Homo sapiens: one gene and its partners. The protein of the gene in region 4 interacts with the protein of the main gene of each other region in a biochemical or structural test. Each region holds a gene or a part of one and is shown on either strand. Other genes may lie near its edges. The genes, in order: RNF7, BTRC, UBA1 and CDC34.

The links.
Region 1: the proteins of CDC34 (region 4) and RNF7 form a complex in vitro, tested with the Homo sapiens proteins (5 studies listed by BioGRID).
Region 2: the proteins of CDC34 (region 4) and BTRC form a complex in vitro, tested with the Homo sapiens proteins (4 studies listed by BioGRID and IntAct, with this or other methods).
Region 3: of the proteins of CDC34 (region 4) and UBA1, one has a biochemical effect on the other in vitro, tested with the Homo sapiens proteins (7 studies listed by BioGRID, with this or other methods).

The regions. Positions count from the first base shown.
Region 1 is NC_000003.12:141,741,285-141,748,070, reverse strand, and holds the end of RNF7 (RING-box protein 2), read right to left. Parts: intron 5,428-6,786; exon of another isoform or gene 5,164-5,427; intron 4,563-5,163; coding exon 4,515-4,562; exon of another isoform or gene 4,514-4,514; intron 2,913-4,513; coding exon 2,794-2,912; 3' UTR 511-2,793; downstream 1-510. UniProt on the Homo sapiens protein: Catalytic component of multiple cullin-5-RING E3 ubiquitin-protein ligase complexes (ECS complexes), which mediate the ubiquitination and subsequent proteasomal degradation of target proteins.
Region 2 is NC_000010.11:101,350,236-101,357,182, reverse strand, and holds the start of BTRC (F-box/WD repeat-containing protein 1A), read right to left. Parts: upstream 3,019-6,947; 5' UTR 3,003-3,018; coding exon 2,955-3,002; coding exon of another isoform or gene 2,574-2,954; intron 1-2,573. UniProt on the Homo sapiens protein: Substrate recognition component of a SCF (SKP1-CUL1-F-box protein) E3 ubiquitin-protein ligase complex which mediates the ubiquitination and subsequent proteasomal degradation of target proteins. Recognizes and binds to phosphorylated target proteins.
Region 3 is NC_000023.11:47,189,761-47,196,828, forward strand, and holds the start of UBA1 (ubiquitin-like modifier-activating enzyme 1), read left to right. Parts: upstream 1-4,068; 5' UTR 4,069-4,264; exon of another isoform or gene 4,265-6,672; coding exon of another isoform or gene 6,673-6,709; exon of another isoform or gene 6,710-7,068. UniProt on the Homo sapiens protein: Catalyzes the first step in ubiquitin conjugation to mark cellular proteins for degradation through the ubiquitin-proteasome system.
Region 4 is NC_000019.10:526,933-534,767, forward strand, and holds the start of CDC34 (ubiquitin-conjugating enzyme E2 R1), read left to right. Parts: upstream 1-4,827; 5' UTR 4,828-4,999; coding exon 5,000-5,176; intron 5,177-7,835. UniProt on the Homo sapiens protein: E2 ubiquitin-conjugating enzyme that accepts ubiquitin from an E1 ubiquitin-activating protein, and catalyzes its covalent attachment to other proteins by an E3 ubiquitin-protein ligase complex. In vitro catalyzes 'Lys-48'-linked polyubiquitination.

The DNA of each region.
Region 1 (6,786 bases), on a different chromosome or scaffold from region 4:
GTATACTGCAGCCTCAAACTTCTAGGCTCAAGCAATCCTCCCGCCTCAGCCTTCAGAGTAGCTGAGACTAGTGTGTGCACCACCATGCCTGGCTCCATGGCAATAACTTAAAAAGCAGCAAAGTGCTGCTTTTTCGTATTTCTTTTTTTTTTTTTGAGACAGAGTTTCGCTCATTGCCCAGGCTGGAGTGCAGTGGTGCGATCTCGGCTCACTGCAATCTCTGCCTCGTGGGTTCAAGCGATTCTACTGCCTCAGCCTCCCGAGTAGCTGGGATTACAGGCACCTGCTACCACACCCGGCCAATTTTTGTTAGAGACAGGACTTCACCGTGTTGGCTAGGCTGGTCTCGAACACCTGACCTCAGGCAATCCACCCACCTTGGCCTCCCAAAGTGCTTGGATTACAGCGTGAGCCAACGTGCCCATCCATGTCCAAGCATTTCTATATTGAAATACAACTGAATTACAAGTTCTTTTTAGTTCTGTCATATAACAATTACATACATTTAAATTATATGTGTAGGAAATATATTTATGAATTTCACTTCATGACAGTAAAGGGGGACACAGTATTTTTATAAAAAAGGAAGCAATGGGACTGACAGAATTAAGATTTACTGATAGCGGTCAGCTGTAATAACACAATTTGCATAGAGGGAAAATTAAATAGCGAAAGATAACTTGTTTGTTTCTAATGCAACAGTAAAATAAAATCAGCACATTTAATCAAATGGAAAGAAAAACCTGTTTGATGCTTAACTTTTGTATTGGAACCCAAAATTGTCCCGGCATGTTCCCTCTGATGAGTATGTATTAAACTTTCAGATGGCTGTGCAGATGAGCTGTAATCATCGCAGGCTGAGCAGCATCAGCGCTGCTTTGTCACAGTGCCTCCTCTTCCCTCAGATGCTGGTGTGTGGCATAAACAGGGCTTTGTTAGGTGGCGGGACTGTGGTTTTGCTGTGTGGAAAATCAAATTGTTACCACCATCCTCCACATTTCATTTATATACTGTCACACTGCCTAAAGTAACCTGACATTCTACTGCTTTCCTCTTCAATGCAAAGCCATGTATCTGGTTCACATTTTAAGGATGCAACCTTCTAAAAAGGTCAAACAGAAAGTTACTAAAACAGTTCACTGCACAATGATAAACATTTAAATGGCCAAAGATATTTGTATAATTTTTTCAGTAGCTAGAAAGACAACTGTGAAAAAATATAAAGAAAAATTTCCAGAGAAATGTGATCAATAAAAAGTAACCCATATAAAAGCATACATAATTTTAATTTTTCATTCTAATTGTTATCTTTTTAAACATTCTATGTATCCACATCCCTTAGATTGAAAAATTCAGAATGGCACACTGCATCTGCAGATGTGAAAAGTTAAGATTCTAAGGTTTTTTCTTAAATTCATATCAGTAGCCTCTACTACAGAAGAATACAAAATGAACTTGTGGTCCATTATTTGTTACAAAATAACCTCCCCTCAGTGTGAATCAGTTTGATAAAGTTGTTTAGTATTTTCTTGCACTCTTTCCAGGTAATAAACCTTAAATTTTATTATTGTCAAATGAAAGAGCAAATGAATATGAATTCTTTCAAATTAAATGAAAGTATTTACTTGACAAATTAAGGTTGCATATAAAATTATAATGACAATTCAAATAAGGTAAGCAGAATAAACCATTTATTAAAACACTGTGTGATAAACTTTTTGATCCAATGCTACACTGGTAAACATTTTCCCTCATTAACATGTTACCTAAAACACAGTTAAATTATATCATCTGGGCCAGGTGCAGTGGCCCACACCTGTAATCCCAGCACTTTGGGAGGCTGAGGTGGGCGAATCACCTGAGGTCAGGAGTTTGAGACCAGCCTGGCCAACATGGGGAAATCCCGTCTCTACTAAAAATACAAAAATTAGCCGGGTGTGGTGGCACACACCTGTAATCCCAGCTACTCGGGAGGCTGAGGCAGGAGAATCACTTGAACCCGGGAGGCGGAGGTTGCAGTGAGTTGACATCATGCCACTGCACTCCAGCCTGGGTGGCAGAGCAAGACTTCACCCCCACAAAAAAAAAAAAAAAAAATTATATCATCTGACCAGAACTAGAAAATACTTCTGTCCTTTACCACTCAATGATTGAACAGTGAGGTGAGTGCAGATCTAGGTTTTCTTGATGAATCAATGATACAGAATAGTAACTTTAAAGGCAATCAAAATTCCATATGCTCAAAAGTTAAATTTTATTTACCCTGTTCACTGGCCCAAACTTAAAATCCTTATATCACATAAAGATTTCATGGACCGTTCCCTCTCCCTGCCAAAAATACGTATTAGGAACAAATTAAGAGTAAGAGTTGGGTTTTAAACTGCACTTTATTTGTTACTGTAACATTCTTTTTTAACTGATCAACCATAAGCATGCAAAAAGTTCTCTGAAACTGCTTCCACTGCCTGTTGTATAGAAATGGGTAAATTATAAAGGTGATTCAATTTGGAGCTCTTTCCTTTTTTATAGCACTTCTAAGCTGTGTGCGCGACACACACCACAGAGGTAGGAAGGACCACCTTTAATAAATTATCTTCTTAATCGCAGAGAATTTCTGAAGATAAAACTGACAAAATGCTAAACCAAGGCTTTGATGAGTCCCAAAGGACCACAGATCCATCGGCTCCTATTTGAAGAATTCATCCCCTGTAGTGTTCTAGCCTTTGTAGGGCACTGGATTACAAGATCCACCAGGGCTCTGAACAACTGCGCTAAGAAGCCTTCTAACCACTCTCATTTGCCGATTCTTTGGACCACCCAGTCCTGCTGGCAGAGAGGGCAGCGATTGTTCTGTTTCACCCACAGGGACATGCAGCAGTTGTGGAAGGAATGATTACATTCTCCCCAGACCACTGAAAGAAAGAAAAAGAAGAGTTGACATTACATATTTCAATTTAAACACTGAACTCAAAATTATAGCTTATTTTATATTACAAATAATAATCTTGAAAAAAGATAGTTAATTGGCCAAAATAATGTTTTTCTATCTATAAAGAAACAGAAACTTAAATGTGTAAGTTACACAGAGACATAAGTCACTGTTTGAGAGCCTTTCCATCACTGTTCTAGAATCTATGGGTGATGTGATGACCCCTAGTTCCTACACAGCTCCACATGCTGTCTTCTTGAAGTTAGATGAATGTTCTTGAACCTTCCTTAGATCTGACCTTCTCAGTCATGCACTGACCTTAGAGATCTTCTGGGCTTTATTTTATGGGAAAATGTCCTTCCAATTTTTATTTACCAAGACAGAATGAGTTGTAAATGTTTTTAGTATGCAGTAGGCTATTATAAATAACATGCTTCTAAACATTCAGTTGTGCATCTGAGCTGAGCTGTTTTCTAGAAGTGATGAATTGTGTTAAGTCACCCATAAGCAGTGCAATTCCTCATGTGACGATGAAATTTTCAAAGTGGCTGGCTGGAGAGAGAGGTCTCTCTGTGATCAAAGAAAGTGGCCTGCCCCTCACAATTCCCAAATTAATACTTTTTAAACAAGCAGCATGAAAGAAAAACTTTAAAACAAGGGAAATCATCCACAATCTAGAATGCAATCTCGAATTTGGGATTCATCTGTCCCTTGCTTGATCAACTGAGCTATATGACAAGAGAAAAAGATTAAATGAAAGAAATAAGGCAGAGAAAAAGATTAAATGAAAGAAATAAGGCAGAAAAAAAGAAAAAAATGCCTATGAAAATTGGCTACAGGGGGTAGGAAGCAAGGGTGAAACATTCTAAGCGTTTCAGGAGGAAGAACTGGATCAAAACTGCAAGAATCAATATTAAGAAGTTCTATGTACACCATGTATTTGTGTTCTACGTACACCATGCAAACACAAAATACAAAGCCAATCTTTTATTCTAAGAAAATCTATAAACATGTTTATATAGCAATCTAGACTTGATCACCTCAAGAACTAGGGCATAAAAATCTTTGAACTGCCTAAAATATTTAGCCTACGACAACTTTTGTAGTCTAAGACTCTAAAGAAAATTTGATACACAAACCACATTCCAAAAATATACTTGAGACTTAGAATTTTTCTACTCTGGTTTTAAAGTTAAATACTGTATTATAAGAGTATTGAAAAGTGAAATGCCTTATTAGAACCAAAAGTGACCTATAACATAGCCAAAATTCAAATAATGTTTTGACAAATTTCTGATTTTATAATTTTCTTAATAGAAAATATTTAATTTTTGATTACCAAAATGTTTATTATGACCATGTCTGGAATATATAACCAATTCTTCTTAATTATGGCAATAAAAGGACTTGCAGGTTCATTCCATTAAACTCTTTTGAGAACCAACATATTTTATATTAACAATGGATCACTGCTTTACAGTTTATTTTTGTGTATTGATAAAGTCAATCTTAATTTCAAATTCAAACATCCCTACTGAGAGAAAACCTTCAGTTGAAAAAGCAAGAGAACAAAATTACAACATACCAACACAGTCCTCTTGTTTGTTTTCAGCTTGACATCTAAGACAGGCATCTAAAAGTAAACAAATAGCGATTCTCATTCTGATGCTCAGAATGCAATTTTTAAAAACCAGACACTTCAAAGTCAAAAGCCCTAAGGGTTAGGGATGGCAATAAAGACTCATACTATTAATTTCTCATCTGAACATAACTACTTAAAGAGGAATAAAGTACAAGGCATTCTACTAATTATAACCAGGAGCAATTTCACAAGGGTTAACAAATCCTCTATTTTTATAAGCTCTGATGAAAAGATGTCCTGACGGTGCCAAGAGAGAAAACTACTAGAGAAAAATATGCCATACTCCACTATATTCAAAGTTACCATACGCTTACTGGGCATGCTCATGGACAGTTTATTTTCAAGACACCCTTTAAATAAACCATATATATATGTTAGCATTTGTTTATACATACATCAAGAAACACTAGGATACCCAAGGAACCAATAATAAAGTTTACTGGGAGGGTTTGGAATGGGAAGGAGAGTTTTCACTCTTCCAGGTAATATACATAACTTCCTCAATTTCTGAACTATATGAATATATAACTTATAAAAAATTAAATTAAAAAATTGCTTCATAAACAAGTTTTTTAAAGTCATCCATACTTACTGACACAGAAGCCTTCCTTTAGCAACTCATAAGAAGCAACTTTTTACTTTCTACCCTAAGACACTTGAGAGTTCCTCTAAAATAAACTGCTTTGTATGCTTCCAATAGGTTGCTACCGATGGTCATCCAGACAAGGCTGGTGAGAAGCCAGTGAGACAGAGGGGACAGCGAGGGCTGTGGAGCCAGATCTACAGTCAAATCCCATTTCACTGGCATTTATTAGGTTCAGGGCCTCGGACCAATTACGAACTCCAATTCCCTCATCTGTAAAAAAGGGACAATACTGTGAGGTATTTATATATTAAGTGGGGATGATACAAACTGGTGAGAATTTTACAGATAAAATAAGTAAATACTAGATATCCCTAAACACTAAGGTTTTTTCTTTGTAAGAAAATGCTCGCCTGTAATCCCAGCACTTTGGGAGGCTGAGGCGGGCGGATCACGAGGTCAGGAGATGGAGACCATCCTGGCTAACATGGTGAAACCCCGTCTCTACTAAAAATACAAAAAATTAGCCGGGCGTGGTGGTGGGCGCCTGTAGTCCCAGCTACTCGGGAGGCTGAGGCAGGAGAATGGCGTGAACCCAGGAGGCAGAGCTTGCAGTGAGCCGAGATAGCGCCACTGCACTCCAGCCTGGGCGAAAGAGCGAGACTCCGTCTCAAAAAAAAAAAAAAAAAAAAAGAAAATGCTTGAGAGCTAAATGATGAGAACACATGGCCACATAGCAGGGAACAACACACACTGGGGCCTTTTGGAGGGTGGAAGGTGGAGAGGATCAGGAAAAATAACTAATGGGTACTAGGCTCAATACCTGGGTGATGAAATAATCTGTGCAACAAACCCTTGTGACACAAGTTTATCTATGTAACAACCCTGTACTTGTAGCCCTGAACCTAAAAGTTTTTTTAAAAAAAAAAAGAAAGAAAGAAAATACAGATAAGTCTGAGCCCAAAGTATTTACCCAACAATGGTAAAGTCTTTTAATAAATTACTTTATTACTGGTTTCTTGGGTATCCTTCTAGAATTTCTTGATGTATATATAAACAAATACTAACATTATATGTATGGGTTATTTAAAAGGGTGCCTTGAAAATAAACTGCCCATGAGCATGCCCAGTGAGCTTATAGTAACTTCTAATATAGTGGAGTAGGTGTAAATACTAAAAATGAGATCCTAAAGGCTGTACTAGAAGTTTTCAAAATTCAATCTGGAATACTATCAGCTTAATGAAAAAAGTAATATAGAATATTTTAGGGAGCAAAAATGGACTCATTCACTAGCTGGAAGAGGAGTCAGAGTTGGGTAAAAGGAAGTTTGAACCAACAGAAAATAGTTTTTAACATAAATAGGAGAAAAATAATTCTGTAAAAATAGAAACACGGTTAAGTTGAAGCCTGCTTCTCTTCTTACACTGGATTCTGCTCAGGCATTTGTTTGCTCCTTTCCACATGCTCTTACCCTTAAAAAAACACCACTGCCCTAGTCTCTTCAGTGTGGATTAAAAACAACCACTGCCTCCTGAGGTTTTCTTCAATCCCACAATTACTATCTCCTCTGTGCAAGGAGTTATGCACTGGGGACACCAAAATGACCAAGGCTGGGTCTCAAGGGGCTCAGG
Region 2 (6,947 bases), on a different chromosome or scaffold from region 4:
GCATGAGCCACCACGCCTGGCCAATATCTTCCTTTTTTGTTTGTTTGTTTTTTTGAGACGGAGTCTTGCTCTGTCGCCCAGGCTGGAGTGCAGTGGCGCGATCTTGGCTCACTGCAAGCTCCACCTCCCGGGTTCACGCCATTCTCCTGCCTCAGCCTCCCGAGTAGCTGGGACTACAGGCGCACGCTGCCACACCCGCCTAATTTTTTGTATTTTTAGAGAGACGGAGTTTCACCATGTTAGCCAGGATGGTCTCGATCTCCTGACCTCGTGATCCGCCTGCCTCGGCCTCCCAAAGTCCTGGATTACAGGCATGAGCCACCGCACCCGGCCTATCTTCCTTTCTTAAAACTGACTCTGAATAAACAGACATGTTATAGCAGGGTAAATGGCACCAAAGGGAAGTTGTGACTTACTCAGATTCATAAGACTGTTACTGCACTGAAAGAGAATACCCAATCTCAAACTCTCCATTCTCTGTTTCTTTTATTAAGGTGTCATTCTGGTGACCCTCTTCTAGTTGACCTTTTCTCAAATGGCAGCCAAAACAGCAGGCAAGGTCAATAATGAAAGTAACTAAAATTAAAAGAAAAAATTGGCTTCTCCCTATGAAAACTGATTCAAGATTTAATAATGTGTGGTGCTCTAAAAGCTGCAACTACTATATGGTCATCTCCAAGTCCACTTTAACTCAACCAGGGAGGCCATTATCAAAACATAACTCACTGGTACAAAGCAGAGATTAAGTAGCTGAGAATGTTACTAGGCTGAAGTCTAACTGAGAGTAAAAAGGATGATCTCATAATGTCTCTTTATGATCTGTAAATCACATTATTCCATAAATCTGACACAAATGTCAGGATTAGGATTAAGAGTCAACCCTCTGCTGGGCGCTGTGGCTCACACCTGAAATCCCAGCACTTTGGGAGGCCAAGGTGGGCGGATCACGAGGTCAGGAGATGAGACCATCCTGGCCAACATAGTGAAACCCCGACTCTACTAAAAATAAAAAATTAGATGGGCGTGGTGGCCCACACCTGTAGTTCTAGCTACTCGGGAGGCTGAGGCAGGAGAATCGCTTGAACCCAGGAGGCGGAGGCTGCACCACTGCACTCCAGCCTGGGCGACAAAGCAAGACTCCATCTCAAAAGAAGAAAAAAAGGAGTCAACCCTCTAAGTAGGAAAACAAAAATAAGCAGTAACAGTTTTCTAACTTAAGTGTAGTAACTTTCACTTACTTCTAAAGTCCAGTAAAAGTTCAAGGTCTCTTCTTCATATTTAGAATTTTAATGTTGGGCAGAAATCCAAGAACCTTCTTCAGGCTCAATGAAATTTTGTTAATGATACCCCTGAATTTTAATTAGGTGTTTTCGAAAACACTAATGCAAGATAAAGTTTTAGTGAATTTGACTAGATTCCAAAAAAGTATTCTTATAAATGGGGCAGTTTAAAGTCTAAAATTCAATTTTGTTAGTATCCATGTTTATCTGGATTTGTTACGGTATTTTAGGCAAAGATACAAAATAGCTATTTTTTTAAGCAAAGGAGTAAGATTTGGAGTGACAAGTCACAATAACTTCTGAAAAAGCAAGACTGGACTGCAAATAATATCAATGTCCCTAAGGCCACCTGTTAAGCTTAAAATCTATGCATTCCATCATTCTTTAGTTGTAACCACAAAGTCTGGTTTTACACCTAGGAAATACAAAAAGCATCAGATTAAAAGCATCAAATATCAGACTATACGAGTTTGCCAAAGATAAGCACAGCAAAAAGAAAAGCGTGATACAAAGTTAAAGAAATATGTTCCAAGGGGTTTAAGCACACCCACAAAATCCAATCTTTGCTCACACTGTGCTTCAACCTAAAACTGACGGGTAACCACAAATCCTGACTTATCCCTGACTTACTTCCCTCTACCAACCTCCACCCTTTTTATCTCCTAAATTTCTCAACTGATCTCATCACTTCTTATGGGTCTTTGCAACTCTCATCTCCACGGCCTTTCCTTTCCCAGAAAATGATACAAAGCACCTGGCCTCCACATTTTACCGTCCCACAATTTACCTTTAAATTTTGTTTTGCTTACCCTATTAGATACTCATTTTGCCCCAATCTCCTGTACCCATGTTTCCCTGACAATCTGCTCTTACTTTTCATCACCTTGTCCTTATTACAGTATTTAGCTTCTCCTTTCAAAGTAGCGTTATGTACCCCTCCCTGACATTTGTAATTCTAGCTTACAGTCAACACCCTTTTCCCCTCCCAGGGACTGTCATTATAGCCCTAGGTCCTCATTCCCAGTCCTTATCTTCTTTAGTGAGGCCTCTTCCCTTCCAGAGTTTGTCAACAGTAGTTTGGCCAAGCTGGGATTCCACCCTCAAGGCAAAGGCTATCCTCCCTCCTCATTCTACAAAACTATAAGCCTCTCACCAGCCCTAGCGTTCCCTCCTCCACCCTTAAATCCATCTGCATCCAGCCCTGCCCGTTCCCCTCTACCCACCGTATCTGTCTTCACTCTATCCCGCGCTCCCTTCCCCAGTCGTGAATGCACCTCCTCTCCCGGGCCTTACCGGTAACCCTGACACCAGGAAGGCCCCGCCAGCGGCCTCACGGCGTTTCTCCAGAGAGCTTCCTCCGCTTTTCAGTAACAGTCCCCACGCCCCTTTCCCTCCAGGGCCCCGCGCGCCGCCTGGAGCCCCCTCCTCGATTAAGCTCCCGCTGTCACTTGGCCTCTCATCCACAAGATGGCGGAGCCGCTGCCCCCACCCCTGGGTCCGCTCCGCAACCCCCAGCCTCCTTTCTGGAGCTCCCATCCCATCCCTCCAGCCGCTCCGCCGCCAGCCTCGGCCCAGGGTCCCGCTGCCCGGTCCCGCAGTGGGCGGGCGGCCCAGGCCAGCGACGCCGCCAACGCCAGCGCCTCCACCGTTCCCCGGCCTCCACCGTCTCCTCACCATAAACTTGAGTGCCTTCTCTTGCAGCACCGCCTCGGCCGGGTCCATAATCGCCGAGGCCACTGGGTCCGCTCTCCGCCGGGGCCGCCCCTTTGGTGCCAGGCCGCAGCCAACGCAGCGCCCGGATCCCGCCTCCTCTTCCTTCCCCCCGCCCTCTCTTACCTCTCAGGCGCAGGCTGAGGGGCCAAGGAGAATCGGCTTCTCCGTGCGCAGGCGAAAGCCCACTGGCTCACGGGATTTGTAGTTCTGGAACTTCCCCCAGGAAAAAAACTGAGGCTACGCCGTGAACCGCAACTCCCACAGTTCACTGCGGCAGCGTTGCGGTTGCCCACAAGCCAGATTTAGATAAGTTGCCATTACGCAGAGGAAATCGGCTGATGGGAATTGTAGTTTACAGCCTCTAAGGATGAGAAACGGGAGGGGCACGGGTGTCTCCGTGGTTACCGAGCGACGCCAGTAGCGGCTTGCCTGGCATTTGATATCAAGATGGCGGCCAATGCCTCACTTGTAGCCCAAATACTAAGAAAAACTGTGGCAAGAATCACGGGTCCTAGGACCTGCCTAACTGTGGTTTTAGGAAGCTGAACGTCCCCAAATTTCATGTATCTGGCATCTGCAGGTTTGCGACCCAGAGTAGCTGGGCCAATGGGCACCTGGCAGCAGCTCACAGACAAATGCGGAATTTCAAGGTCCTCCTAAGCCATCGCCACCCACACTTCTCCCGAGGAATCTTTTCTCCCCCACAGCAAGTCAGGGCCGAATAGAACTCGGTTCAAGAAATTCTCAGTGTTTAGAGCTCAAAAAGCACATAACTTGCTATTGCTAACTGTGGGATGTAAGCCCTGCACTAAGGGTCAAACAGGTACTTAACAAAAGTCCTTCAACGGTGGAATATAATGGCCTCCAGCAAATAAAGCATATAAATATTTTCTTTGGCCTGAAAAGGTACAATATGGGTTTATTTTGGAAATTGGGTCTACCTTAGGAGGAGAAAACTCTAGGGTTTGGTTAAAAGTGATTTAGGTTGTTTTAAGCTGCTATGTTTGTGATAATTGGTTATACAGCCTAAAAAACTGACACACACCCAAATGCCCCTCAGCAGGTGGTTGTATGAACAAATTGTAGCATATTCCATATGTAGCACAGTGGAATATTACTTAGCAATGAAAAAGAACAGTATAACAACAACAACAACAACAAAAGTGATTTAGGGCCAGGCGCGGTGACTGACGCTTGTAATCCCAGCACTGTGGGAGGCTAAGGCGGGTGGATCACCTGAGGTCAGGAGTTCGAGACGAGCCTGGCCAACATGGAGAAACCCCCGTCTCTACTAAAAATACAAAAATTAGTCGGGCCTGGTGGCACGCGCCTGTAATTCAAGCTACTCGGCAGGCTGAGGCATGAGAATTGCTTGAACCCGGGAGGCGGAAGTTGCAGTGAGCCGAGATCACGCTACTGCACTCCAGGCTGGGCAACAGAACGAGACTCTGTCTAAAAAAAAAAAAAAAAAAAAGTGAGTTAGATTGTGACAGCCTTGTACAAAATATCTGAATTTATAAAATAAATGAACTAGGAAAATACTTTTTGACTTATAGGAAAAAATCTCCATTTTAAACTATCTTATTCACTCAGTCATCCAACAAATGGTAAGCATATAACCGTGTGCAGACATCATCTCAAGAAATAGGGATTCATCACTACTTGGGTGGCTAAAATATCAGACTTCACCACTATAATTCATCTATATAACCAAAAACCACTTGTACCCCAAAAACTATTGAAATAAAAATAAAAGTAATTAATTAAACAAAAAGAAAAAGGAATGGGGATTCATTAATGAACAAGACAGACCCAGTTATTTCCTCGTGGAGCTTACACTTTTACTCTGTTGATACTTTGTCCTAGCCCCTATATCCACAAAACTCAGCATGATACTTAATACATAATAGGCTTTCAGTTAATAAAAAGTTTTGTTCTTGAATTTTTAAAAAAATTCTACACAAGTGCAAAATGGAGAAGACTTCAAACGCATTCGTATGAAAACTAGCTGGAGGTTTTCAGAGGACTAAGGCAGTAACAGGATGGAGTTACAAAAAAAATAAATAAATAAATAAATGAAAAGATAAGGTGGGATGATGGTGCAGCCACTGGAAAAGAGTATTCCAGGCAAAGGTAACTGCATTTTTGGTGATTGATTCTGAGAACCAAAACAAGATCAGTGGGACTTTAGAGGAAGAGTGGCCCTAGATGAGACTGCAGAAGAGTATGGGGCTCTATAGGCAAGCCATTATTTAGCCGGCATAAACTGGTCAGATAAATCAGCTGACATGCTTTCTAAACTGGCATCAGGGCCTGTACCTTACCAGATATAAAATACCTTGACTTTCACTCCAGCTTATAGGCCAAGTTCAGTCATTTAGACTGTATCCTGAGAGCTGTGAGAAACTAGCTGAACAATTTAAAAAATGGTCAGATTTGCATTTTCAGAAAATCACTCAGAGTCCAGGGTGGAGGAGAGATTAAAATGGAGCACAGCTGGAAGCTTGGGGAAAGGATTATGAGGTTGCTGAAATATTCCTGGGAGAGATGATGGCAGCCTGAATGTGGTGGTGAGAACAGAAAGAAGTAGATGGATTCCAGAGATACTAAGAAGATAGAATCAGTGGAGTATGGTGATTGATTAGATGTGTCATGGATGATGTCAAAAGGATGTGTCAAAGATGACTTCTATGTATCTGGCTCAGGTAATGAATGAGGGATGCCATATATATGTATTTTTTTCTTTTTTTTGACAGAAAGCACAGTAGAAGTGGTAGGAGGATAATCAGTTCTCTTTTTGGACATATTGCTTCAAGGTGCCTGTGAGATTTCTAAGTGGATTCAGATGTTGAGGAGGCCATTGGAGATTTGAAACTGAAGTTGGAGGGAAAGACCTGGGCTACAAATAGGGATTCCAGCATGTAGGTGGTAAATGAAACTCCACTCCCGCTTCTTCCCCCGAAAAGAATGAAATCATCCAGGGAGCTGGGCATGGTGACTCACACTGGAAATCCCAGCACTTTGGGAGGCTGAGGCAGGTGGATTACCTGAGGTCAGGAGTTCGAGACCAGCCTAGCCAACATGGTGAAACCCCATCTCTATGAAAAATACAAAATTAGCTGGGTGGGGTGGTGCTCACCTGTAGTCCTAGTTACTCAGGAGGCTGATGCAGGAGAATCGCTTGAACCCAGAAGGTGGAGGTTGCAGTGAGCCGAGATCACACCACTGCACTCCAGCCTGGGTGGCAGAGCAAGACTCTGTCTCAAAAAAATAAATAAATAAAATAAAGAAAGAAAAGAAATCACCCAGGGAAAGCATAAACAGTGGAAAGAGCAACAGGACTAGGACAGGGTCCTAAAGAACTGTAAGATTTATAGGACGAGCACAGGAAGAGGAGCCTACAAAGTAGCCCAAGAAGTGACCAGAGAGGTAGCAGGAAAGTCTGGTGAGTGAGGATCATGAAGGGGTTAGGGGGTGCAGATGCCACACTGCAGCCTGTTGAAGAGGGAGGTGAGGATATGAAGACTGCTGAGTCTCTTCTTTACAAAACGTGGCTATCTAGGGAAGGAGAGAAAAGCTAGCACAGTGGTGGGATGTAGAAGTTGAGAGTCTAAGGAAAGCATTGTTTTGTCTGAAAGAAGGAAGATTTTAGTTCAAAGGAAATTGAAGAAGCATGGCAACTAAATGCAATGAATGATCCCTGATTGGACACAGGAACAACACACATACACTGACACTGATACACAGCAGAGAAAACAGCTATAAAAGGCATTAATAGGGCCAGGTGCAGTGGCTTACACACAGGTGTGGGAAGCCAAGGCAGGAGGATCTCTTGAGCCCAGAAGTTCAAGACCAGGTTGGCAACCTGGCAAGACCTTGTCTCTCTCTCTCTTTTTTGAGACTGAGTCGCGCTCTGTTGCCCAGGCTGGAGTACAGTGGTGCGATCTCGGCTCA
Region 3 (7,068 bases), on a different chromosome or scaffold from region 4:
GGAGGCAATGCAAAATAGTACAACCCTCTCTTCCACCCTCCCTCTCCCTCTCCTTTGTCTATTTTCCTGCCTCCACAGGGCTCACTGTGGGACCACAGATGCACCCCACTATGCCCAGCTAATTCTTTGATTTTTTGTGGAGACCAGGTGGTGGTGGTGGGGTGTGTGTGTGTGTATGTTGGGGCGTGGGGGGGTCTCACTTTGTTGCCCAGGCTGGTCTTGAACTCCTGGGCTCAAGCAATCATCCTGCCTCAGCCTGCCAAAGTGATGGGATTATAGGCGTGAGCCGCCGCGCCCGGCCAAGACTCCATTTATTAAAAGGCTAAAGAATTTTGCCAGGCGCGGCGGCTCGCGCCTATAGTCCCAGCACTTTGGGAGGCCGAGCGGGCGGTATCGCCTGAGCTCAGGAGCTCTAGTCCAGTCTGGCTAACGTGGCGAAATCCCGTCTCCACTATGGTAACATGTAAACATAGAAAAGATAACAGTAAAATTTTTTCTGTGTTATAGGACCGTTGACCAAAATGTTATGCAGCACATGATTGTATATCCATAATTTATATTACTGTATATAGTCACAGATATCTATTATAATACGGGTTTGTATGTGAAACTATAATTTTACTTATTGTTATGTTTATGGTCTGTGTATCTTGCTAGAATGTCAGCTCCATGAGCCCAAGGAAGAATTTCCAGCACCTGGCCCATGTCAAATGAACTTTTTTGGCCACCTGAGTCTCGGTCTCCCCATCTGTAGGATGGGTGTGCCTTTCCATGTGGAGGCACCCACACGTTCCGTTTCCTCTTCCCACCCTACAGAGCACGGCTCCGGCAATTCCACAGCTCAGGCTTACATTTTCCCATATTCTGGACGCTGGTGCCCACCACGTGCACCAGGCACTGGCCAGACAGAACTACCACCCCCAGCATGCCGCGCGCATTTGGGCCGTACCACAACCTGTAGGGTCATCTGGGTCTGAAACGGGCACCAGCGACGCGGGAGCAGGGACTGACGCCCCTCTAGCAAAGCATCTGTGGTACATCCCAGACCCGGGGCTCTCCAAGGCCCCGCGCTTCCGAGCTCCGCGCAAACTCTGGCTTCTCTTGTACGACAGAGGTGGTTTGCTCTTCCGTTGCCCCGTGGCTTCAGCTCATCTTTGGCAGGAAGGCGAGGCTTCCGCCCGGCACAGGGGGTGAGCTGGAGCACCGTGCCCCCAAGCCTCTGGACAGCATTTGGAGGAGGGTGCTTCCCTAATCCCAACTTCGGGGAAACCCCTCATGGGCGTATTTGGAGCCTCCGGGCCCGGGGTGATATTTAGGGGGCGTCTGCTTTTGAGACCCTTAAGGGGTGCCGTTTGGGGACTTCGGGGTGGGATTTGGGAGTCTGTTTCGGGGAGCACCCCTCGGAGGCAGGGTTTGGGGGGCTTTGGGGAGATTCTTAGGGTCCGTGTATGGGCACCCTTGTCCGTGGAGCAGGATTTGGGTTATTCTTCAAGGGGAGAAGCAAAGCTTGAGGTTACTAAAGTCAAGGCGGGACTGGGGGAGGGCTTGTTTCAGGACGGGGTCCTGGTGACAGAACAATCGGGACCGACGTGGCATTGTGGAGGTGTCAGGCCTTTGTGACCTCTGGTTTTGTGATGAGGTCCTCCCCGCGCCTGGAGGCTCAGGACTGCGAGACTGGACACGTCGGGGGCCCAGATGTTTCTAGGGAGAGGAGCCTCCCAGCTCAGGCTAGGGAAGGGACACCGGAGCCCAGCTCTTCCTGAGCTGACGAGGCGCCACCCGGCCTTTATTCATTATTCATAATAAGGTGGGGCTGTGGTAGGCGGCAGTTTTTTTGCCTCTTTCGCACCTGGTCCGCTGAAGGTTCTCGGCTTGTGAATTATTCACGAGGGGCGGATCAGCGTGCCGAAGGGACGTGCTGAAGGGGCGTTCTGAAGTCTGCCGCGCAAACGAGTTCATTGATGATTCGCAAAAGTTAAGTAGCACCCTGAGTTTTCAGTGGCTTTTCTAGGGGTTCCGTGCTTAATTCATGAGGAGCGTGGCTTTTGCAGCTTTGTCTGCGTGATCCGCGGTTAGCTTTCCCTTGCAGGTACCAGAGTTAAAACCTGGCGTCTAGCAAAGGGATGAGGCCTCCTACATTGTTCATTTCTTATGGCCTGGTAATCCCAGATAATCAGCCGGCTCTGGATTCAAATCCCATCGATCCTTTCCAGTTGTGTGATCTTTGGCAAATCGTTTTGTAAGCCTGAATAATGGGTATGAGGATAACGATAAGATTAGCTTACACTCGTTTAGCTACTTAGCGCATTTAATCTTCACGACAATCCTAGGAGGTAGGTCATTATTACCCCCACTTTATAGATAAGGAAACTGGGACACAGGAAGGCTAAGTAATTTGCCTAAGGTCACACAATCAGTGAGTGGCTGGGCCGGGATTCAAATTGGGGTCTAGTTCCGCAATCTGTAGTCTTAACCAGATGCCATAATGTCTCCCCTCCCCATTCCCCTGCGCCGCCATTTGATAGTACTACTACTACTAATATAACACTTAGCATGTGCCAGGCACTGGTCTAAGCCCTTTCTACTTATTTCTTCATTTAAACTCCATCGCAAGGTAAGTTGCTGTTATTCCTATTTTATGGATGGGGAAGCAGTGGCCCAAGTTGGGGGTTTCTCTAGTGGCTGAGTATTCATAACTAATTTTATATTAATGTAAATATATATTTACATATCTTAACATATTACTTTTATATTAATATATAATATTTTAAAAATTTAACAGTGCCTTGTGCCAGCAATGTTCTAAGGCTCATCCCATAATTTATATTCTCTGATTTTCTTTTGTTTGAGACGGAGTTTCTCTCTTGTCGCCCAAGCTGGAGTGCAATGGCGCGATCTCGGCTGACTGCAACCTCTGCTTCCCGAGTTCAAGCGATTCTCCTGCCTCAGCCTCCCCAGTAGCTGGGATTACAGGCGCCCGCCAACATGCCCAGCTAATTTTTGTATTTTTAGTAGAGACAGGGTTTCACCATCTTGGCCAGGCTGGTCTCCAATTCCTGACCTCAGGTGATCCACCCGCCTCGGCCTCCTAAAGTGCTGGGATTACAGGCGTCATCTGATTTTCATAATAACACATTACTATCCTCATTTTACAGTTGTGGAAACTGAGGCACCTGCCAAAGACATGTAGTGAGTTTGGGTTTGATTGGACCAAGGCAGCCCTTGTTCCTGAGGCGGGGAGAATGGAGGGAGGCGTGGAGAGGGGAGGTGGGGGCAGGGAGTACACGTCCCCTGGGTTTTCTGGTGGCACTGCAGTGACATCTTTCATTATTCATGAACAGGAAGGCGTGCTCACTTTGCCTTGGCTATAGCATCGTAATCCCTATTTGCTGGGCAGGGCAGTCTTGGGTGTTTCTTCGCCTTATGCATAATTCATAAATTGGGTGGAACCTTTCTTGACCTCTCTGAGTTTCCAGGTTGAGCTACTGCAGCAGCATAATTCATTATTCAGGACCTGGGAGAGTGTGTTTTCCCTGCAGCAGCCCCATTTCCCTGCTTACAGTGTATTAGATGCAGCAATAGGCGGGCGTGCCCCTTTTATTCCAACCCACTGGGCCTCATGCATTATTCATGAGTAAGTTGTGGCCTGGGTCTCCTTGGCTTCCGGGCCCCTGCAAGATCATCATTATTCATGAATGGGGGTGTGTGGCTTCCATGTTTTAACATCTGCTTTCTGGTTGCTGGTTGTTAGTCTACCAACCACTCAACTTCATGCATAACTTATAATCAGGAAGCATGGCCTTAACGGTTTTTCTTCGCTTCCTTGACAGCCTGGCTGCAACAATTCATTCATTAGTCGCATTCCATGAGGCGTGGCCTCTGTTTTACCTGTTTTCGTTGTTACTGCCACAATGTCCACCAGGTGGTGCTGTTCCACTTCTAACCGAATGAATCGCAACCGAGTAGGGAACTTTATGCATGATTCATAAGTAGGCGCGGCCCGCTTGCATCCGGGTTTCTGGGGGTGGGGCCCAAGGTTTTGTTCCGGCCCCAGGCTCAGCGTCCGCCATCTTGTGTCGGCGGCTCGGCTGTAAGGAGGTGGCAGGGACAACCACAACCACAACGGCCGGGGGAGGAGAAGGCGGCAGCGGCGATTCTAGGCGGCCCAGGCGGCGGGGAGGAGGAGAAGGAGGAGGGTGGCGGCCGGGCTTGGCTTCGGCTCCTTGAGGAGTTGGCGGCGGCGCGACCCGGGGAACCGGCATTGGTAAAAAAACGTCCTTTCACTGCGCCTCGCCCTGGGCAGGGGTTTCGGGGAGGCACTGGAGGGCCCTGAGCCACGCTGCTGTCGGGGCGGGCCGCGGTGACTCGGGAGCCAGGAATCAGCGGAGTAGGGAGGGGGAGCGGATCCTGGGGCGGGGCCGACTTTCCCCGGCCAGGACCACTCCGGCTCCCTCTGGTTGCAAAATCTGACCTTGGAGTCGGACCCCCAGGATGTGCTTTTAGAGACTCACGCCCAACATCTCTAGTCTGGGACCTGACTCCGTCCCGAACCTTGTATCTCAGATCAGAACTCTTCCCCAGTCTCCAATAGAGATTTACGTGGATCAGCATTGCTGATCAGAGCTCCTCACCATTGAATGCCGTTAAAGACCTGCCCCAGAATCTCCTTTGAGACACTTCCTAGCTTCTCAGTATTTGTCCTCAAGGCTTCCAGGACGGGCTAGATCTCGAAGGGGTCCATAGGCCCTTTATCTCTGTAAGAGAGTCCTCTTTAGCATTTTCCTTCAGACCCCCATCCCACACACATGCTAGCCGCGCTCAGAGCTTCCAGGGGTACTAGACCCTGTGAAAGGCCATTTGGGCCTGGCCTTTGTGTCGGGGGCCCCTCTTCGCCACACGTCAGGTCTCCTAACCCCACCCTGGCCCTAGCATCTTCCATCAGAGACTCTGCCCAGTATTTCTACTCAGAGACCCCTCTTACCATCTGCCTTGAGAGACTCTTCAATTCCTAGACTCTGTCCTTTGACACTTTCTCTACTTTTATGGAATTTCTCGCTTTTTATACTTCCAGTATTCAGAGACTACTGAGAGGCCTCAGCATCTTCCCCATCAGGCACCTTGAACCCCCAGAGCCTTCCAGTGCACCAGATACCAGGGAGGAACTGTTTGGATACATAATCCTCCATCAAAGAGCCCCTGCGAGCATCTGCTCTTGCAGATCCCGTTGGCTTCTAGCCCCTTCCATCAGAGACTCGCCTCCCCAACCCCACCCTAGACCCAGCCTCTGCCTTCAAAAACCAACCTGGGTTCTAGCTGCTTTTTTCACAGATCCCTTATCCTCACATCAGGCCTCAGAATCTGCCCTCAGATCGTTTCAAGGTCCCTAACGTCTGCAGTCAGGGGTTTTCAGCTTCTGCTTTCAGCCTCCTTGGACCCCAGGATCATTGTCAGATGTCCCTTCCCCCCACAGGCCTTCTTGTTTTCTTTTTCTTTTTCTTTTTTCCGAGACAGAATTGTTTCACTATGTCGTCCAGGCTGGAGTGCAGTGGCGCCATCTCAGCTCACTGCAACCTCCACCTCCTGGGTTCAAGCGATTCTCCTGCCTCAGCCTCCCGAGTAGCTGGGATTACAGGCATGCACCACCACGCCTGGCTAATTTTTTGTATTTTTAGTAGAGATGGGGTTTCACCATATTGCCCAGGCTGGTCTCGAACTCCTGACCTCAGGTGATCCACCTGCCTCGGCCTCCCAAAGTGCTGGGATTGCAGGCGTGAGCCACCGCGCCTGGCCATGGCCCTCTTGTTTTCTACTGCAGTAGAAAACCCTCTTCTCAGCATCTACCTTCAGCGCCTCCATGGGGTCCTACATAATTGGTCAGAGAAACCCAACCCCATTTGGGGACCTAGCCAGTGTTTGCTTATTAACCTTTTTAAGGCCTGCACTATCTGGGCCCAGCTTCCCGTTTCCACACCCTCAGAGCAGCTGTGATACCTAGCATGTCCTGTCAGAGATTGACACAGGGCCTTTGTGTTCCATTAGAAACCTCTCCCAGCCCCTCACCATCCACCCTCACAGCCTCCTGGGACTCTGTAGTAGGAATGTCAGATACACCTCTCCTCTTGCATGTCCCTATCTATTATTTTTGGTTAAAGATTTCTCTCTGCTACCAGCATCTGTCTCCAGAGTCCTCCAGAGCCTCAACATCCTCCTGATGGAGGCTGCCTCTCCCCCCAGACCCCAACATCTTCCTGCTGCCTCCTCAGACTCTAGAATCCCCCACCCATTCCCTTTGCAGCTTCCATGGGGCCCAGCAACTGTCCTCCTACCTCCTTGCAGCCTTGGGGGCCTCCACTGCAATTTTTCAGCCTTTCTCCAAAAGATCCTTTTCCAGAGATCCGAATTTGAGTCTTTTCCTAATACCCTAGCCTAGTCCTTTCCCTCCCAGGACTTCTAACATCTCCTTTCCCATTTGTCTCAGAGCCTCCTTGCTCTTAGACACCCACTTCCTGATTCTCCTCTCACGTTCCCATGGACTTCTCAGTTAACCCCTCCCAGAAAGCTTGACATGCTCCAGCCCCCCTTCTCTATGCCCTAGCTTCTCCATCCTGCTAACCTGCCTCCTCTCACACCTCCAAGACTCCTCCCTCAAACCCTCTGGTTTGGGAATAGAGAATGCTTACGCTTGAAAATCTTCAGTTTGGAGACTCAGGTATGTTTAGAAACTAAGCCACAGCTCAGCTTTGCCAAACAGTTCACAGTGTGTATGTTATGGTGGGGGCCTGAGCAAATGTTGAGGTAGGAAGGGTGTAGATTGTTTTTCTGCTGGGGGTGGGGGATCTTTAGCTCCTCTGCAGAGTTTCTGTCCCAGACTCCTGCTTGCCTTGAGACAGGGCTGTTCCAAACCTTTGCAGTCAAAATCCACTTGAACAATCATCTGAAACTTCTTAGACTCTTGCTGCCTGCACTGGGGATCCAGAGGTGAAATGTCCAGATATTAAAGTGCTCTCTGGCCCTGGATCATCTCTAATTTATGGAGTGAGGAAATGGCATGTCCCAAACAAACTGACC
Region 4 (7,835 bases):
TACAAGGCATGAGAGCAGCAAGATGCCATCGTGTAAGAGTCTCAGTGACATCTTGGGCTCCACAGGAAGACCTTTGTACAACTATCTTATCTAACCCACTTTCAAATTAAAAAACTGAAAGTCGGGCTGGGCGCGGTGGCTCATGCCTGTCATCCCAGCAGTTTCAGAGGCCGAGGCAGGCGGATCACCTGAGGTCAGGAGTTCGAGACCAGCCTGGCCAACATGGCGAAACCCCGTCACTACTAAAACTACAAAAATTAGCCGAGTATGGTGGCGCACCTGTAATCCCAGCTACTCGGGAGGCTGAGGCAGGAGAATTGCTTGAACCCAGGAGGCAGAGATTGCAATGAGCCAAGATCGTGTCACTGCACTCCAGCCTGGGCAACAGAGTGAGACTCTGTCTCAAAATAAAATAATAAAATAAAATAAAAAACTGAAACTCATAGGCCAGGCACGGTGGCTCATGTCTGTAATCCCAGCACTTTGGGAGGCCAAGGAGGGTGGATCACATGAGGTCAGGAGTTCCAGACCAGCCTGGCCAACATGGTGAAACCCCATCTCTACTAAAAATATAAAAATTAGCTGGCATGGTGGCACAAGTCACCCACTTGGGAGGCTGAGGCAGGAGGATCACTTGAACCCGGGAAGCAAAGGATGCAGTGAGAAGAGATGGAGCCACTGCGCTCCAGCCTGGGTGACAGAGCAAGACGCCATCTCAAAAAAAAAATAATTAAATAAATAAATTAATTAAATAAACCTGAGACTGGGTTTAATGTTTGAGCGATATTTCCAAGGTCGTGGCAGAAACTAGATTTGAATTTAAGGTTCTTCTCTGCCATGTGATGGAAAACCTAACTCAAACTGGCTTAATTAACGAAGAAGGAATTTATTTTTACTTATTTATTTATTTTTGAGATGGAGTTTCACTCTTGTTGCCCAGGCTGGAGTGCAATGGCGTGATCTTGACTCACCACAACCTCCGCCTCCCAGGTTCAAGCGATTCTTGGGCCTCACCCTCCCGAGCAGCTGGAATTATAGGCATGTGCCACCACGCCCGGCTAATTTTGTATTTTTAGTAGAGACAGGGTTTCTCCATGTTGGTCAGGCTGGTCTGGAACTCCTGACCTCAGGTGATCCACCCTCCTCGGCCTCCCAAAGTGCTGGGATTACAGGTGTGAGCCACGGCGCCCGGCACGAAGAAGGAATTTAACCTGGTTGTGGTGGTGTGCACGTGTGGTCCCAGCTACCTGGGAGGCTGAGGTGGGAGGACTGTTTGAGCCCAGGAGTTCAAGGCCAGCCTGAGCAACAGGAACGGGGGCAGGGAGGGAGGAAAGGAAAATAAACTAAAAAGGCTGGGCGTGGTGGCTCACGCCTGTAATTCCAGTACTTTAAGAGGCCAAGGCAGGAGGATCACTTGAGGCTGAGAGATCGAGACCAGCCTGGCCAACATGGTAAAACCCCATCTCTACTAAAAATTCAAAAATTAGCTGGGTGTGACAGTGCACGCTTGTGATCCTAGCTACTTCGGAGACAGGTGGGAGGATTGCTTAAGCCTGGGAGGCAGAGGTTGCAATGAGCTGAGATTGCGCCACTGGACTCCAGCTTGGGTGACACAGAGAGACTCCATCTCAACACAAACGAACTAAGAGGCAAGAATTCATGAGCTTGCATCATTGGAACATCCAGGGGAGGTCAGGTAACAGCATGATGCAGGATCACTAATAGGATTATCAACGTTTCCCCTCTCATCAGCCGGCTCGGCTTTCCTGTGATGCCGCCTTTGTTCGGAGGCCCCGTGGTGACACCATGACCCCGTAACTCCAGCCCCAGGTCCTTCCAGCTCAGCCACCCCAGCACTGTGATCCCAGAGAAATGTCCCAGAGCTGAATCTCATTGGACGTCAGGAGTCACATGCTTGTTCCTGAACCAATCATTGCAGCCCAGGGTGGGGGCCCTGGGAACTGATGGGATGGCCCCTCCCTGCAGCCAGGGCTTGCGTCAGTCCAATTCGAACCCGTTCCCACAGAGTAGGGAGCCCCCAAGCAGGCAGGTGGAAGCCCCTGGTGTCCACCGCTCCCGGGTGCTGTGAGCCTGAGCCTCCCTGGGGGTCGGGGCCCTGTGGGACCAGCTGGAGGGGCTTGAAAATCTCCCCAACCCAGGCCGGGCGCGGTGGCTCACGCCTGTAATCCCAACACTTTGGGAGGCCGAGGCGGGCGGATCACGAAGTCAGGAGATCAAGACCATCCTGGCTAACACGGTGAAACCGCTTCTCTACTAAAAATACAAAAAATTAGCAGGGCGTGGTGGCATGCGTCTGTAGTCCCAGCTACTCAGGAGGCTGAGGCAGGAGAATCACTTGAACCCGGGAGGTGGAGGTTGCAGGGAGCCAAGATCGTGCCACTGCACTCCAGCCTGGGCGACAGAGCAAGACTCCTTCTCAAAAAAAAAAAAAAAAAAAAAAAGCGAGAGAAAGAAAACCTCCCTCACCCACACAGTGCTTCCTGGGATGTGGGTGTACGGAAGAAGAGAGATCTTGGGAGCCCTTAGAGAAGGAATCGTGGTTAATTCTAATTAGCATTAATTTACCCATGAGCTGCTGCCTGCCGGCTCCATGATGCTGGCAATATATCCACGACCTGTGGCACGGAAGAGACTGAGGCTCACAAAACCCTGGGAACCTTGGTGAAGGGGCCACAGCCAGAAGGCCCCACTAGTCCCGAGACCCTCCTTTTACTCCAGGCCCCCAGGGTGCCGGGCAGAGGGGCCTGAGGGAGGAGGCCCAGAGGCCCTTACGGGTGAGGACGCCTCGGCCTCGGCCCTGGACAGCTCTGGAAGTGACCGCTCGGCCCAGAGCTCTTTCTTGGATCCCTCCCTCCCTCTCCACTCCTGATGCTGTTTTCCTTTCCCCAGACAGGTTTGCCTGCTGGTCCTCTTCCGGGGACCAGACTCATGAAGCCGGGGCCAGGTGTTGGGGCACCTGCGGGACAGAGTGGCCCTGGTCCCAGACTGGTTTTTGTTTTTGGTTTTTTTTTTTTTTGAGACGGAGTCTCTGTCGCCCAGGCTGGAGCGCAGTGGCGCTATCTAGACTCACTGCAAGCTCCGCCTCCCGGGCTCACGCCATTCTCCTGCCTCAGCCTCCCGAGTAGCTGGGACTACGGGCGCCCGCCACCACGCCCAGATAATTTTTTGTATTTTTAGTAGAGACGGGGTTTCACCATATTAGCCACAATGGTCTCGATCTCCTGACATTGTGATCCGCCCGCCTCGGCCCCCCAAAGTGTTGGGATCACAGGCGTGAGCCACCGTGCCCGGCCTGTATGTTGATGCAGCTGTGTGTACCCAGGGCATAGCAACAATGCCACTGGCACAGTCCGAGGGCAGGGCCACCCGTCACGGGCACGACTCAGGGGAGGCTGGGCTGCCCCGTCCTCACCACGGCCAGTTCTCCCGACCAAGCTTCACAGCAAGGAGCATGTGGGTGTCTGGGCAGCCACTGAGCCAGGTCAGAAGTCAGGTGGGGTCACAGTGATGCCCGGAATCAGCTGGGGTCAAGACTCAGGTGGGCTGGGCGCGGTGGCTCATGCCTATAATCCCAGCATTTGGGAGGCCGACGCAGACGGATCCCTTTATTAGTCCAAACTGCATCCTCCCCTTCCTTTCAAAACCTAACAACACACTTGAGGTCAGGGGTTCGAGACCAGCCTGGCCAACATGGTGAAACCCCATCTCTACTTAAAATACAAAATTAGCCGGACGTGGTGGCGGGCACCTGTAATCTCAGCTACTCGGGAGGCTGAGGCGGACACTAGCTTGAACCCGGGAGGCGGAGGTTGCAGTGAGATTGTGCCACTGCACTCCAGCCTGGGCCACAGAACGAGACTCTGTCTCATTTAAAAAAAAAAAAAAAAAAAAGACTCGGGTAGGACAAAGGTCAGGCTGGGAGGAGGGCACAGCCAGGCTCGGGCTCAGCTTGGGGTGGGGGCTCCGTGGGGCTGGCGCCTCTCCCGGGTCAGGTGCTGAGCCGATGCTGGCCGGCGTAGGCCTCTTTCCCAGTTTCTCTGGGGGGCAGGAGCACCTTGCCAACCTCTGATGGCTCCAGCGCCTGCACTCGCCTCACACCACATGGTGACTTCAACGGGGACCAGGGAAGCCCTCGCCCCTCCCACCCCTCAGAGCCCTCCCCGACCTCGCCCACTTCTCAGAGCTCCCGCTGTCGGGGGAACCGAGGCAGCGCCGCGCCTGGAAGCCAGGTCTGCGGATCCCGCCTCGCTCCCGCCCCTTCCTCCCTTCCGCGTGGCCAGCGCGACCCTAGGACAGACTTCGCGCCCGTCCCCTGCACAGACGGGGAAACGGAGACGGGGACGCGGGGTCGCGCCGGATGGACCGGCCCTGCCCCTCCGGTCCCGGTCAGGACCCCGCGCCGCGCCCCGTTCACCGCCCGCGGCCCCGCCCCGCGCCGGCACGTCACAAAACAACCCCAAAGCCGGGGGACCGGGCCGGTGACGGCGCAGAGCAGCCCTGCCCGCCTCCTTGCGCACAGCGTCCGCGGTGCTGGTCGAGCAGGGGGCGACGGCGGCGGCCTCGGGGATCGGAAGAGCCCGGGGCTGCGCGCTCGAACCCTCCCTCCCGGCGGAGGCGCTCGGCGCCGTAGGCGGGACCGGGGCCGGGACTCCACCTCCCGGCGTCCCCTGCGGCCGGGCGCGCAGGCGCAAGTCGGACCTGGCCGCGGAGCGCAGGCGCAGTCGGGGCCAGGCGGTGCGCGCAGGCGCAGCGGGGGGCGGGGCGCGCGGGCCCGGCCAAGGCAAGCGCCGGTGGGGCGGCGGCGCCAGAGCTGCTGGAGCGCTCGGGGTCCCCGGGCGGCGGCGGCGGCGCAGAGGAGGAGGCAGGCGGCGGCCCCGGTGGCTCCCCCCCGGACGGTGCGCGGCCCGGCCCGTCTCGCGAACTCGCGGTGGTCGCGCGGCCCCGCGCTGCTCCGACCCCGGGCCCCTCCGCCGCCGCCATGGCTCGGCCGCTAGTGCCCAGCTCGCAGAAGGCGCTGCTGCTGGAGCTCAAGGGGCTGCAGGAAGAGCCGGTCGAGGGATTCCGCGTGACACTGGTGGACGAGGGCGATCTATACAACTGGGAGGTGGCCATCTTCGGGCCCCCCAACACCTACTACGAGGGCGGCTACTTCAAGGTGAGCGCGGCGACCCCCGCCCGGGTCCCGGAGCCCACGAGCGACCTCGGGCGCCGGGAACCAGCTCCCTGCCCCGCGGTCCTAGCGCTGTTGCTGGGCGGGCCCCGAAGCCTCCTGGCTTGGGCTCGTTTCCCTTCTATGGCCACGTTCCCCCACCCAGCTCTGCCCGGCCCCCTCCTCGGACCGTCTCGGGGACCTTCAGCCTCTGCTGCAGTCCTCGAAAATCCCCAGTTCCCTTCAAGGCATCGTCCGGTCCCCTGTTAGGCTCTTGGCCCCCGGAGGGGTGGCCGGGGGCCCTCCCTGTAGCATCTGGGCGTGGGGCTCTTGCCCACCTCCTCCTTGGCGGGGGCTGGACCCCGGCTGCCTCCCCCTCCGCCCCTGCGAGAAAGAGGGAGCGGAGCCCAGGCCGCGCCGGCCTTTCAGCTGCCCTCCCCGCCCTCCCCGGAGGAGACAAAGAGGCCCCCCCAGACCCCGTAGCTGCTATTGTTGGGGAGCTGGGCCCGTGAGCGGGGGAGCGAGGCCAGCCTGGGGGTGGCTGGCGCGGCCACTCGCTCAGTCTCCAACAAAGGCCCGGATGAGCCTTGGCAGCCAGGACCCGCCTGGAAAGCGGCCACCCTTGCCAGTAGCAGCCGGCCAGGCGCCCTGGGCTCCATCCCCTGCTTTATGTAACCTGCGCCCTCGGGAAGGCCGAAGTAGGGGCGTGCCTCCCACCTGCTCCCTGCAGCTCTCTCCAGGCCTCCCGGCTCGGGCCCGCGTCCCGGACCCCGACCTCAGAAGCTCCGGGCTCGCTCATCCCAGCTGGTCTTGGCCTTTCTCAGAGTCCACTGAACAGGTGGCTTCTTGGGACCCAAACCCCGAGTTCTGGGCCGTTTCTTCTGCCCTCTGGCGGTTTAATTCCAAGCAGTTTCTGGATGTTTTTGTTGTTGTTGGGAGCGGGGAGGCTGTTTCTGTCTCATGTGAAAAGGACTCAGGCCAAAACCAGGGCAGTTTTCTTGATCTCACGATCCAGACGTGACCTTTGACTTCTTTTAGCGTTCAGGGACCTCGTTCTTGGGGCCAGAGGGACAAAGCGAGGGGCCCTGTGTGAGCGGTGGGGAACGAGCACCCTGTCCAGGAATCTCCCCCTCCCACCGTCACTTCCTGCCAAGAGCCTGGACACGACACGACACTGCAGGGCCCGGCCCGCTCTGCCCCGGCCAGCTGCGGGCGTGGGGCCGAGGGACCGATGCCTCCCGCACGATATGTGTCTGCTCTCCGAGCTAATTAGTGTCTGAACCGCACCCGCTCAGCGGCTGTGAGGGCAGCAGCCTGGTCTGCTGGGGGCGATTCCTGAGCAGAGAGTGGGACGCCCGTGGGTTCTGCATCTGGAATCCTGCGTCCCCACACAGGGAACAGAGTTTGGGTCTCGAGGTTGCCAAATGGTTTTAGCAGCTCCTCCGCCAGCCCCTTCTGTCTGCTTGGGGGAGCAGCTGGCTGAGGAGCCGCAGCCCCACCTCGAAGCCAGGCCTGTGAGGCGGCTGCTGTTCTGGAAGGAGGGGATGGGGGTTTCTGGCTGCTGTGCCCACCAGACCGGTTGCCAGGGATTGTGGGCAGAGCTTCCTGGGCCAGCATTAGGGGATAATCCGGTTTTCCGGATTTCCCAGGGAGGGGGCCTCTAGACATCTGCCACAGGGTCAGTCCTCAGAAGCCAGTGTTGAGACGGGGGTGCTGCCACCCACGAGGACTCTCCCTTCCCGCTGTGCCTGGGAGGGAGTTGGGGGAGCGTGGAAATACAGAACCTGCTGAGTGCCCAGGGCCGCTGCTGCCCAGCCACTGCCTGCAGCTGCTGTTCCTTCAGGAGCCAAAGTGAGCCCTGGGGCAGGGGCCGCCAGAGAGAGCCCTCCACAGCCGACTTGCTGTCTGCCCTTGGCAGGGCGCTTTCCTTTTCTGAGCCTGGGTTTGCTCCGGGGAAAAGACATTCTTAGAGGTGCCCAAAATAAGAGGCTCATTGGGACTTGGTGGGGTTTGGTACAGATGAGGCCTTGGCTGTTGTCAAGGATTGCCGCCTGAAACCCAGCACCAGGCTTGGGGGGCCTGAAGTCTTGGGGAACCGCAGGACAGTTCTGAGACTGAAGTTCCAGCCTTGCTCTGTGGCCGCGGCCAAGTCACTTGCCTTACGGGGCACCAGTGAGTTCCCTGTCAAACAGAGGACACCCCCCAAGACACCCCGCGTGCCCTCCCTGTCCAGGAGGGGCCCGTCCACGATCCAAGACCCCCAAAGTGCCCTGCCTGTCCGGGAGGGGCCTCGCCCACAATCCAAGACCCCCGAGTACCCTCCCTGTCCAGACCTCGCCCACGATCCAAGACCCCCTGAGTGCCCTCCCTGTCCAGACCTCACCCACGATCCAAGACCCCCTGAGTGCCCTCCCTGTCCAGACCTCGCCCACAATCCAAGACCCCCGAGTACCCTCCCTGTCAAGGCCTCGCCCACGATCCAAGACCCCCGAGTGCCCGCCCTGTCCAGACCTCGCCCACGATCCAAGACCCCCGAGTGCCCTCCCTGTCCAGACCTCGCCCACGATCCAAGACCCCCGAGTGCCCTCCCTGTCCAGACCTCGCCCACGATCCAAGACCCCCGAGTGCCCTCCCTGTCCAGACCTCGCCCACGATCCAAGACCCC